2 separate regions of the Homo sapiens genome follow, and region 1 is linked to region 2. Evidence: fine-mapped expression QTL. A gene starts in region 2. The other region holds a variant in brackets. All regions are shown on one strand. Distances are between the middles of the regions. Region 1 overlaps CHCHD3 (coiled-coil-helix-coiled-coil-helix domain containing 3). Region 2 holds the start of CHCHD3 (coiled-coil-helix-coiled-coil-helix domain containing 3).

Evidence for each region. PIP is the estimated chance that this variant, and not a neighbour inherited with it, causes the effect.
Region 1: its variant is fine-mapped to the expression of CHCHD3 in whole blood (TOPMed, PIP above 0.99).

The regions. Positions count from the first base shown.
Region 1 is chr7:133,043,275-133,048,663 of GRCh38, forward strand. The region is part of intron 2 of CHCHD3 (coiled-coil-helix-coiled-coil-helix domain containing 3); the gene reads right to left. Among named protein-coding and RNA genes, the nearest start is that of MIR3654, 11 kb to the left of the region's middle. RefSeq lists a silencer at 239-401. The variant G/T (reference allele first, on the strand shown) is at 3,297.
Region 2 is chr7:133,078,910-133,084,298 of GRCh38, forward strand. It overlaps CHCHD3 (coiled-coil-helix-coiled-coil-helix domain containing 3), which reads right to left and starts at 3,181. Exons shown (of 8, transcript NM_017812.4): 1 at 2,948-3,181. The coding sequence starts at 3,028. It also overlaps the pseudogene RNU6-92P. RefSeq lists enhancers at 2,914-3,548, 2,964-3,143, 3,354-3,463.

The DNA of each region.
Region 1 (5,389 bases), 36 kb before region 2:
ATTGTATTTCATTTGTGGACCAACCATATTTTTTAATGTGGACAAAACTGACTTAACTGTTACAGTTTCAAAAATAGACAAAATCGACTGGACACGGTGGCTCACACCTGTAATCCCAGCACTTTGGGAGGCCAAGGCGGGCAGATTACCTGACGTCAGGAGTCTGAGACCAGCCTGGCCATCATGGCGAAACTCCGTGTCTACTAAAAATATAAAAATTAGCTGGGCGTGGTGGTGCATGCCTGTAGTCCCACCCAGCTACTCGGGAGGCTGAGGCAGGAGAATTGCTTGAACCCGGGAGGCGGAGGTAGCAGTGAGCCGAGATAGCGCCACTGCACTCCAGCCTGGGTGACCGGTTGAGACTCCATCTCAAAAAAAAAAAAAAAATAGACAAAATTCCCTTTCATGCTCTACTGTTCAGAATTCTCACATTTTGCACTTAGGGAAGTTAACTTATTTGATTTTAGAACTTTTGTGTTTTATTTATGACAGGATAAAAGATTTCAGGGTACTATTTGCAAATGCAAATAAAATTGGGGGAGGATAGTTTTTATTCCTAATAAATGAAGAGCAACCTTTCTAAGATTAAGTAGCAAAATATGAGACACACCCCAATGTGCTATATGAGCATTTTAGCAAATGAATACATTTTAGTAGTCTAGTGAAAAGCATCCTGACGCTAATTTTCAGAGGCATCATCACATTTATGATGCTCATTAACCTGCTTTTCAGCATCAGTGTCCCGTATGTTTCCAGATTTCTACCAATAATCTATTATGGGCATAAATTAAACACTGCATGACTATGAATAAAAAGTTTAAACTATGTAAATGTCTAATCACCATGGCAGGTAGCAGCATGTGTGATAAACCAACTGTGGATAAAGCAACTGAAGGGCTGAAACCCCTTTGCCTGATCTCTACTAACAATCACAAAACTCACTAGACATTTAAAGAAAATACTTAAATAATTGTTTTATTGGTTGATTTGTTAATAGAAATTAAAATGTTCTCCATTAGCGCTTTTAACAGCATGCGCTCTCCAAAACATTGTCATTTAAGTTCCCAGTTGGGAATGGTACAAAATACAAACCTAGGCAGACCTGTATTCTTTCAAACATTACCTATAATTGAATAAATGCTTACATTTTTAGGTTTTGTAAGTTTCCTGATAGGATGCAGCAAAATAAAAGTTAATGGGTGGGGAGAATAATTACCCCAAAATAATAACAATAATAATACAAGAAGTACTAAAGGAAAATAAAATACCATTCAATTTATAAGCCAAATTTAAAATAATCTGTCCTCAGATAATCAGAAGTTAATAGTATTCTCCAGCCCTATTGTAATCAAAAGACTGTTACAAAAATTCAGGCCAAAAGCTTTTGCAAGCTATTTTTGTGAAATACAAAAAGACTGTAAAGTGTTGGTAATGATTAGAAAGCCCAAGGCTGGAAAGAGTCAAGGGAGAGAATGTATATGGCAGAAGAGCAGTCCACTGGATGGGTCTGCAGGGCAGACTTGGGAGAGGGAATCCAGGAAGCTGCATGGAAGCTCACACAAATCTGCAGCTCTCCTCCCCAGGCGGGAGATGAGGCTGACAGCAGGGCTGAGGCACTGCCTCCCAAGTCCTGCAGCTCTGATCCAGGATGCTGGCCTGGGGAAAGCAACGCACATACTCACTGCATGATGCGGGGTTAGGGGAGCATGGCAACCCTGCTGAGCGGTAAATGTGCTCAGTCGTTTTTTTCCCCTCTACCTAAAGCTTTTCCTGTCAACAGCATCCGAGTTACTTAGTATCTCTGGAGCAACTCAGACAGAGGGGCTTAACAGTTTAGAAGAAACAGCTTATGATTCCCCACCTAAGAGAGGAAATAAAATGCATTTAAGTGAATGCCTCCCATTTAATTAACAAAAGAAAGAGTAGAACTAGATTTTAGGTAAGGATGGAAGCAACTACAATACACTTAAGCTGTCAGGCCTGACAACTGACGAAGAGGTTCAGACTCACCCAGTGAAAAGCAATAAAACAAACCTTTTCAGGCTTACACGACGCACAGGAGAGACATGCCATTTCAGTGCACTCTAACATTCTATTTCAGGTCCTGTCTCTGCTCTACCTACCAGTCATCACTAATGGAGAACTGAACTGAAACTCTCTATGACAGTCACCCTCATTAAAACAAATTGCCCAGAAGAAGCTGAAATATAGAAGGCAAAGGCTTTTTAATGAAGAAAATAACAAACTTCAATATGATCATTTTATCTTTAGGGGAGAGGTAGGCAGAGAACTGACTAGAACATTAAGAAACACAAATAATTTAAACTTATAGGTTCTAACCATTTTAAATTAAGTAAATTTTAATTTTTACCCTCCAGGATCTCGCAACATATGTATATGCTGATATAGTTTGGATCTGTGTCCCCGCCCAAATCTCATGTCAAATTGTAATCGCCAGTGTTGGAGGTGAGGCCTGATGGGAGGTGACTGGATCATGGGAGCTGATTTCCCTCTTGGTGCAATTCTTATAGTGAGTTCTCATGAGATCTAGTCGTTTAAAAGTGTGTGGCACCTCTCGCTGCCCCTCCTCCTCCTCCAGCCATGTGATGTACCCCCTTCCCTTTCATCTCCTGCCATGATTGTAAGTTTCCCAAAGCCTCCCCAGAAGCCAGCAGATACTGCCATGCAGAGTCATGAGCCTACAGACTGCAGACTCATGAGCCAATTAAACCTCTTTATCAGTCTCAGGTATTTCTTTATAGCAGTGCAAGAACTAATACTTAAGCCTGAATCTTACTTTTTTTAGTGAGGTCTTACATTGTTTGCATATATTTTTGCTTTTGTAATTGTTTATTCTGTTTTTTAAGAGCAGATCCAGCAGGTGGCATAAATGTTTATAAACATGAGAGACCGGTATAATCTGATGAAGTAGTTCTTAACCTGGGAATTCAAGAGATCTGTAAACTTGGATAGGAAAAAAAATGCATCTTTATTCTCACTAACTTCTAAATAAAGTATGCATTTCCTTCAAATATGAATGATACCCTAAAACCTAGTAGTATTAGCCACAGTACCTGTGATTTGTCACCAATAGAAATCACACATTTTCATAACACATTACAATAGTTTCAGACATTCCAAATATTCATGCTCATCACTACTTTGAAATAATAGTAGTTAATACACCCAACACCAGGTCATTTTATTTAATGTGCTAGTAAGTCAGTGTATATTACAAACTTGGGTTTTTTTAATTATATATAATTGGTTTCTTTTGTAATGCTATGTATTTTTTT[G/T]GGGGGGGGAGACGGAGTCTCCCTTCTGTCGCCCAGGCTGGAGTGCAGTGGCGCGATCTCGGCTCACTGCAAGCTCCAGCCTCCCAGGTTCATGCCATTCTCCCGCCTCAGCCTCCCGAGTAGCTGGGACTACAGGCGCCCGCCACCACACCCGGCTAATTTTTTGTGTTTTTTAGTAGAGACAGGGTTTCACCGTGTTAGCCAGGATGGTCTCAATCTCCTGACCTCGTGATCTGCCCGTCTCGGCCTCCCAAAGTTCTGGGATTACAGGCGTGAGCCACCGCACCCGGCCATATTTTTTGTATTTAAAAGTAAAATGGATCCACAGGCTTCACCAGAATGCCAAAGTGCAACTTGGCACAAAGCAGGTTAAGAACCTTTAATCCAGTAGAATGTACAGGTTTGGAGTGAAGACCCAAACTTACATCAGACATTGTTACCTGTGGTCTAGAGTAAATCACTTAATCTCTCATAGCCTCGGTTTCTTCGTTCACAAATGCTTCCACGAGCTGCTGGGATATGCTAATGTACAAAAGGGGACGAATCAAATGTTAGACAACACCAGATCATGGAAGCGATGCTAGAGTTAATAGCACATACACAGTCAATGGGACTTCTTTTTTTTTAAAGAATTTAACCCAAAAAATGTTTCAGAGGCAAGACAAAGGTAAAAGAGAACATTTCACAGTTTTATAATCCCAACTCTACAAAAAAGAGTACTGCCCTCAGAAAATTTTCATAAGACAATCCAAAAAGCCAAAATGACAACCCAGATATGAACCAATCAACTCATTATTTCACATAATCATCTACATTTCTGTCACTCAGGAAAAGCTACCCTGCCTGAATTAACAAGAAGAGAATATTAACAGTTGTATTTAAGATGCAAATGTGGTATATCCTTGAGCAAAAACGAGTCTCATGACTTTGTCCTTACCACAGAGGATAACACATTTATAAACTGTGTTGGAATGTTTTTGTTCAAATATGTTTTACGTGTTTCAACAATCACAGATCAAATTACAGGTGAAAAAAATCCAGTTTATTTGTCATTCTGAATTAAAAATAGTAAATGAATTGGCTACATTATGAAACTAATATCTCAGCTAATGCAGACAAAAAAAATCTTTAATCCTCAGAGATTGGAGGTAAAAAGGAAGAAAGGAGAGATACAGATAATCCCAAAAGTCAGACAGTGGCTTCAGTTTTGGACCCAGTAAAAAATACCTACTCAGGGCCAGGCGCGGTGGCTCATGCCTGTAATCCCAGCACTTTGGGAGGCGGAGGTGGGCAGATCACCAGAGGTCGGGAGTTCGAGACCAGCCTGACCAACATGGAGAAACTTCCGTCTCTACTAAAAATACAAAATTAGCCAAGTGTGGTGGCACATGCCTGTAATCCCAAGCTACTCGGGAGGCTGAGGCAGGAGAATCGCTTGAATGCGGGAGGTGGAGGGTGCGTGAGCTGAGATCACGCCATTGCACTCCAGGCTGGGCAACAAGAGCGAAACTCTGTCTCAAAAACAACAACGACAACAACAAAACTCCCTTAGGTCTGATCCTAGGTTAAATAAAAAAAAAAAAAATACCTACTCAGACAGAATCACTTACTTCGTGGAGACAGCCATGAGCTGTGGGGATAAAGTCAGCGGGGGAGGGAAAGCGTAGTTTATATCTGCTTATATCTGCTAGTACTCTGACACTGGGCTGGGAAAATAATATGCACATATAACTTGAAGTGACTACAAAACAACAATAATTTTAATCCATCATTGAGAACAATATAAAACAATAAAATATAACTATACAAAACTGAGTGCAGTAAGTGGCAAATTAAGAAGTAATCAGAGTTCCATAGGGATAGTCAGGATAGGCTTCCTGGAAGAGGCAGGATTTTTACTAATTCCAAAGATGAATCCGGCCTAATAGAGAAGTGAGGAGAAGGGTGACAAATAAGGGAGGGGTAAAGAGGCAGAAGGGAAGCAGGGATCATAGCAGCTAGTTTAGAAATAAACAAAAGGGACCACCATTCTAAATTAAGTCATCAAAATAGCTAGTCATAGACAATTGGAAAATCACTACCAAAGGGTAAGT
Region 2 (5,389 bases):
GTGCCTCATCGGCACCATGTTCTAACAAACTAAGCTAAAAACAATGGCTTATGGACATACTGAGAATGCGGTTTCTTATCCTTCCCCATGTCTCAGAAGGGAACAAAGTGACTATTTAAAGCCAAGAAAAATATAAAGAAATAAAAACCATCTACAACAGACCTAGACAAAAAAACACCCTCAATTAGGGCAGAATGTAAGACTCCCATTTCCCAGTCCATACCCTTTTAGGTACACCTGTTGGGGCACAACATGCTCTTATTTTTATTAAAATTTGAAGTTCACTTAAGTTCACATATCCATTCTTTTGAACAGCTCTAATAACAGCTATTATTCACAAGTGCAAACACTGTCAAAGTACAAGACACTGTGCTAGATATACATTATGTCAAATTCTCAAAGTAGGCTTTGTCCAGAAATACTAAATACGGAAACACAATGAAAAGTGACTTGTCCAGAGCGACACCGCTAGTGAGAGGCAGAGATAGAATCCAACCCAGGTCTGCTTGGTTCCAAGGCACATGCTCTTTCCACTACACAGCACAGCACTTTCAAAGAATCTTAAAACTTTGCATGTGAAAGGAACCCTATCATAATAATGGCTGCCTTTTTAATGAAAATCTACAATGTGCCAGGTGCTTTACATACCTTACCTCATCTTCTTACAATAACCAATCAAGGGAAGTGATGGTATTACCGTTTATGGATAAGGAAATAAAAGAAGTCAATTGTCAAAGGCCACAGGCTAATAAATAACTAACCTGCGATTTAAACTGATGTCTGCTTAATTCAAGCCAAGAAAAATACTAAGATCAACTGAAAAACATCTACAAAAGACCCAGACAAAAATCACACAGGCAATCAGGTTAAGTAATAAATATCTAACCTGAGATTTAAACTGAGGTCTGTTTAATTTCAAGTTGATACTCTTTTGATCATGAGCTCAAAGAAATCAGAATGACCTCTGTGTACTCAATACTTCAATGGATGTCACTTCTAGAGGAAACTGCAATGGGCTAAGTATGGCTACAAGAAACTTACAGTGCCACCAGACTCACAGGATTTCAGGACTGGAAAATATTAGAGATCTGAGGGATGTACTCAGTTGCATTATTTTGCAGATGGGAAAACTGAAGCTCAGAGAGATTGCAAAACATTCATGTAAAAGGAGGATTTGAAGCAATGGAGACCAGCGCAAGGGCATTCCAGGTGAAGGGTATATTCTGAAGAAAAGCATAGAGGTAAAAATGATCATGCTTGAACTGTTAGCAATACAGGTAAAATGTACTATATAAGAAAGGAAAAAAATGAGGAATGCTGTCAAGTTATATGACCAAAGGACATTTCTTTTTAAAAAACAAAAATCTTAAAAAGGTTTTTTAGACAATTTTTCCATTTTAATAGAATACCTATCCCTGCTGTCACAGTTATTCCATCCAACCTTATCTAATACTTGATATGAATCTCTGTGCTGTGGCCACATTCTCTTTCGATTTTGTTTGCTGTTAGCACTGTGTCTGTACTAAAGCACGAGAATATGGATTTATACATTTTTTTCTAACCAATGTCTTCTCACTCAAAACTTATTTTGCTTTGTCTTTTAATTATTTTTCACTCTGAGTTGCGTACTGAAAGCCTAATGGCAAGAGTCTTAAAATCTCTGCATAAAACTTAAAGTTTACAGTAATTTTTTACTCCAAAGAGTACTAACTGAAACACAATAACTCAAAGAATACAGCCTCAGATATTTTATTACAAAATGTAGTACTACCATTAATTAGCATGATATAAAGAAATACTGGTCACAGACCAAAAACTGAGTTCGACAGTCTGAGTTTCTATGAAGAAAAGTTTAATAAATTATTCTCAAGGTAACAGTTTCAGAAGAAAAAGTTTTTAAACATTTTAAATATTTAAGAAGTTTTATTTCCTGGTAACAACTGTTAAAAATAATTTACAAATGTAATTTATTTACGCTGGTTGATAACAGAAAAAAATATATAAATTATTATAAAACTTTCTGAAGTCAAAATTGCTTTATTTACTAGGTTCAGGCATCATACGTCCAAAAATGTGAGGCTCCAAATTCAGGCGCAGCGGAGAGTGTGTTAATGAAGTTAGTGCTGGTATACTGACACCCTAGAGAAAAACCAGGTTTTCAGTTTATGTATCAGGTGCATGCAAAGGGCATTAAAAAAAAAGTGCTCTACAACGTTGGTCAGAAATGACTACATTACTTCTACTGGTATGAAAAACTGCAAACCCATCTCAGCCCCTATCAGACTGGCAGACACTAGTCCTGAAGCAACTGGGCCTAATCCAAAACTTCGGCGCAGCAGGTCACAGAGGAGGCGCCTGGGAAAGAGGAGATATCAAGTGAAAGTGAAGCAGGGAGAAGCCAGAAGCCGCCCCAGGCAGGTCAGAAAAGACTGTGGGGCTGGGAGGGAGGATGACAGGGTGTGGGGAGTGGGTGGGAGGAGGGGGTGTTATCAGAGGGAGAGCACTAAATGACACAAAGCAAAGGCAATCCTTAAAATGCCAATTCACCCTGGGAGACAGGGTGTGCACAGTGGAAAAGCAGGGTTTGGGTCCTGAACCCAGGAAAACCATTTCACAGACAAGTACACCGAGGTATGGGTTTCAAATACGGTCCTGCAACAAGGGAGCAGTACAGTTACGAGTAGACTGTGAGCCCTTGCAGGGTATAATTCAACCTGGCATTCCCCGCCCGCCCCAGCAGTGCCTAGCACTTGGCACAACCAGGAACTATCTCTGAATGAATGTCCCACGTCTTGAAACTCTAGGCTTCTTCCCAGACACCTGGGCTTCTGGCCTTAATACGCTAGGGTCCAGGACGGGAGAAACCCAGGCTGAGCGGGTCCGGAGAAGATGGGGCCTTGGGGTCCGAGTCCAACCACTGGCCCTCCGCCCGTCCACGGGCACTCACCCGGATGCCCTTCACCACGGTGATGTTCTCATTCTCGTCCGCCTCGAAGGTGACCCGGCGGGTGCTGGTGGTCCCACCCATGATTCCGGTTCCTGCCCCAGCGGAGACCTAGCGGGGAACCACGAGCACTTCGGGGCCCCCGCACCCACACGCGCGTGGAAGGGCCTGGATTCTTTTCCCGCACAGCGGGAGCAAGGCCACGACCCCCAGAAGCAAGGAGAAGGCGCCGGTCCTGAGCTCCCGCCTCCTCCGGTCACGCGCCACAACAAAAACGCCTCAGGTTGGTCGGCGATGCGAACTGCCCGCCTCTGTTCGGCGAGGGCGCCCGGATTGGTTCACCCGACCCGGATGCTATGGCAACAGGTGGTGTTTGATAGCTTTCCGCGGAGTCCCTGGGTGTAGTGGGAACTGTGGTCTCGATCTGGCGCGGTGGGTGATGGGACATTCTCTCCCCGCGCCTGAGCGCGCTAAGGGAGCACGGCATTCTGGGAGTTGTGGTTTTGACTCCCCAGAGACGCCTAACTGGGCAACTTTTTGAAGACATAATTCTAGAAATTTAGGCCACTAAGTTCAGAGACACAATCTTTCTCTCAAAGGGACTCACAGTTTAATGAAAAAGATGCATGATACTAATGAAGCCATTCCTAGTGTTCTATACACAAATTCCTGGCTCAAAACTTAGCGTTTCATTACAGTCGTAGGGTAGCTTAATGAAGACTACTTCTGAGAAATGCCTCGTTAGGTGACCCTGTGATATCTGTGGTTGTGCAAACATCATAGAGTGTACTTACACAAACCCAGATGGTGTAGCCTACTACACACCTGGGCTACTTGGTGTAACCTATTGCTCCCAGGCTGCAAAGATGTACAGCATGTCACTGTACTAAATACTGTAGGCAATTGTAACACAGTGGTATTTGTGTGTACAAATATATGTAAACATAGAAAAGCTACAGCAAAAACAGTGTAAAAGTGATTGCTTTGGCAACACATCTAGGACAATTTGAACAATACAGAGATTAGCACAGCCCCTGAGCAAGGTTGACACATGAATTTCTGAAGCATTCCATTAAAAAAAAAATCAAAGATAAAAAATGGTATGCTTCTATAGGGCACTTACCATGAATGGAGCTTACAGGACTGGAAGTTGCCCTGAGTGAGTCAGTGAGTGAGTGGGGAGTTGAATGTGAAGGCCTGGGACGCAACTATGCAGTACTGTACCTTTTATCAACACTGTGCACTTAGGCAACACTAAATTTATTTTCATATATTTTCATTCTTCAAGAATAAATTGACCTTAGCTTACTGTAACTTTTTAAACTTATAAACTTCTTTTTTTGTGACTTTTTGACTCTTTAATAACACTTAGCTTAAAACACAAACACACTATATAGCTGTACAAAAATATTTCTTTCTTTATATACTTAGTCTATAAGCTTTTTCTATTTTTGAAATTATTTACTTTTTACTTTTTAAACATTTTTGTTAAAAATTAAGACAAACACACACACATTAGCCTAGACCTACACGGGGTCAGGATCATCAATATCACTGTCTTCCACCTTCACATCTTGTCCCACTGAAAGGTCTTCAGAGGCAATAACACGTATGGAGCTATCTCCTATGATAACAGCACCTTCTGTAACACCTCCTGAAGGACCTGCCTGAGGCTGTTTTACAGTTAACTTTTTTATATAGGTAGAAAGAATGCACTTTAACCTAAAGATAAAAAGCATAGTATAGTAAATACTAGGAGACAGGAATTTTCCAGCTCCATTATAATCTTATGATTCCACTGCCAGAAATGAGGTTCTTCTTTGACTGAAACACTGTTATGCAGTACATGAATGGTGGCATTTTAGTAGTAGCCATAAAATAAAAAAATAAAAAACGTAAACGTGTGTTTGGTCCATGTCTCTTGTCTCATGAACTAGTATCTGTATTTTTTTCTTTTTGTAAAGTAAAATTTTAAGTACTATGGTTTTCAAACCTGTCTATGAGAAAATACATTTCTTCATAGAATAAATTATTTGCACCAAGTATGTAGAGAATTTACTTTCCACTTTTGTGTCTCCTTCTACTACTAGTTCAGTTACATAAGTTAGGCCATAATAGGGTTAGGCAGAGAAAAGTTAAGTGATTGCCAAAGATGGCATAAATTAGTGGAGGAATTAAAACTACATCAGAAAAGTTGAGATGATCTATTGTGGAAAGTTCCTATTAATAGTTCAACATTTCACCTCTACGAGACCAGTACATAGTTATTAGGTTATTCATCTACATATTTCTTTTTTGCTAAACACACTGTTACACATAAGTTTAGCCATATGACCTTAGTTTTACAGAGGCAGATGATTCTCAATAGAAATTAGGTTAATGATGGTACTATTCTTCAATTAATCCCTCTCAACATTAAAAGCAGCAGGCCACAACACACCATGG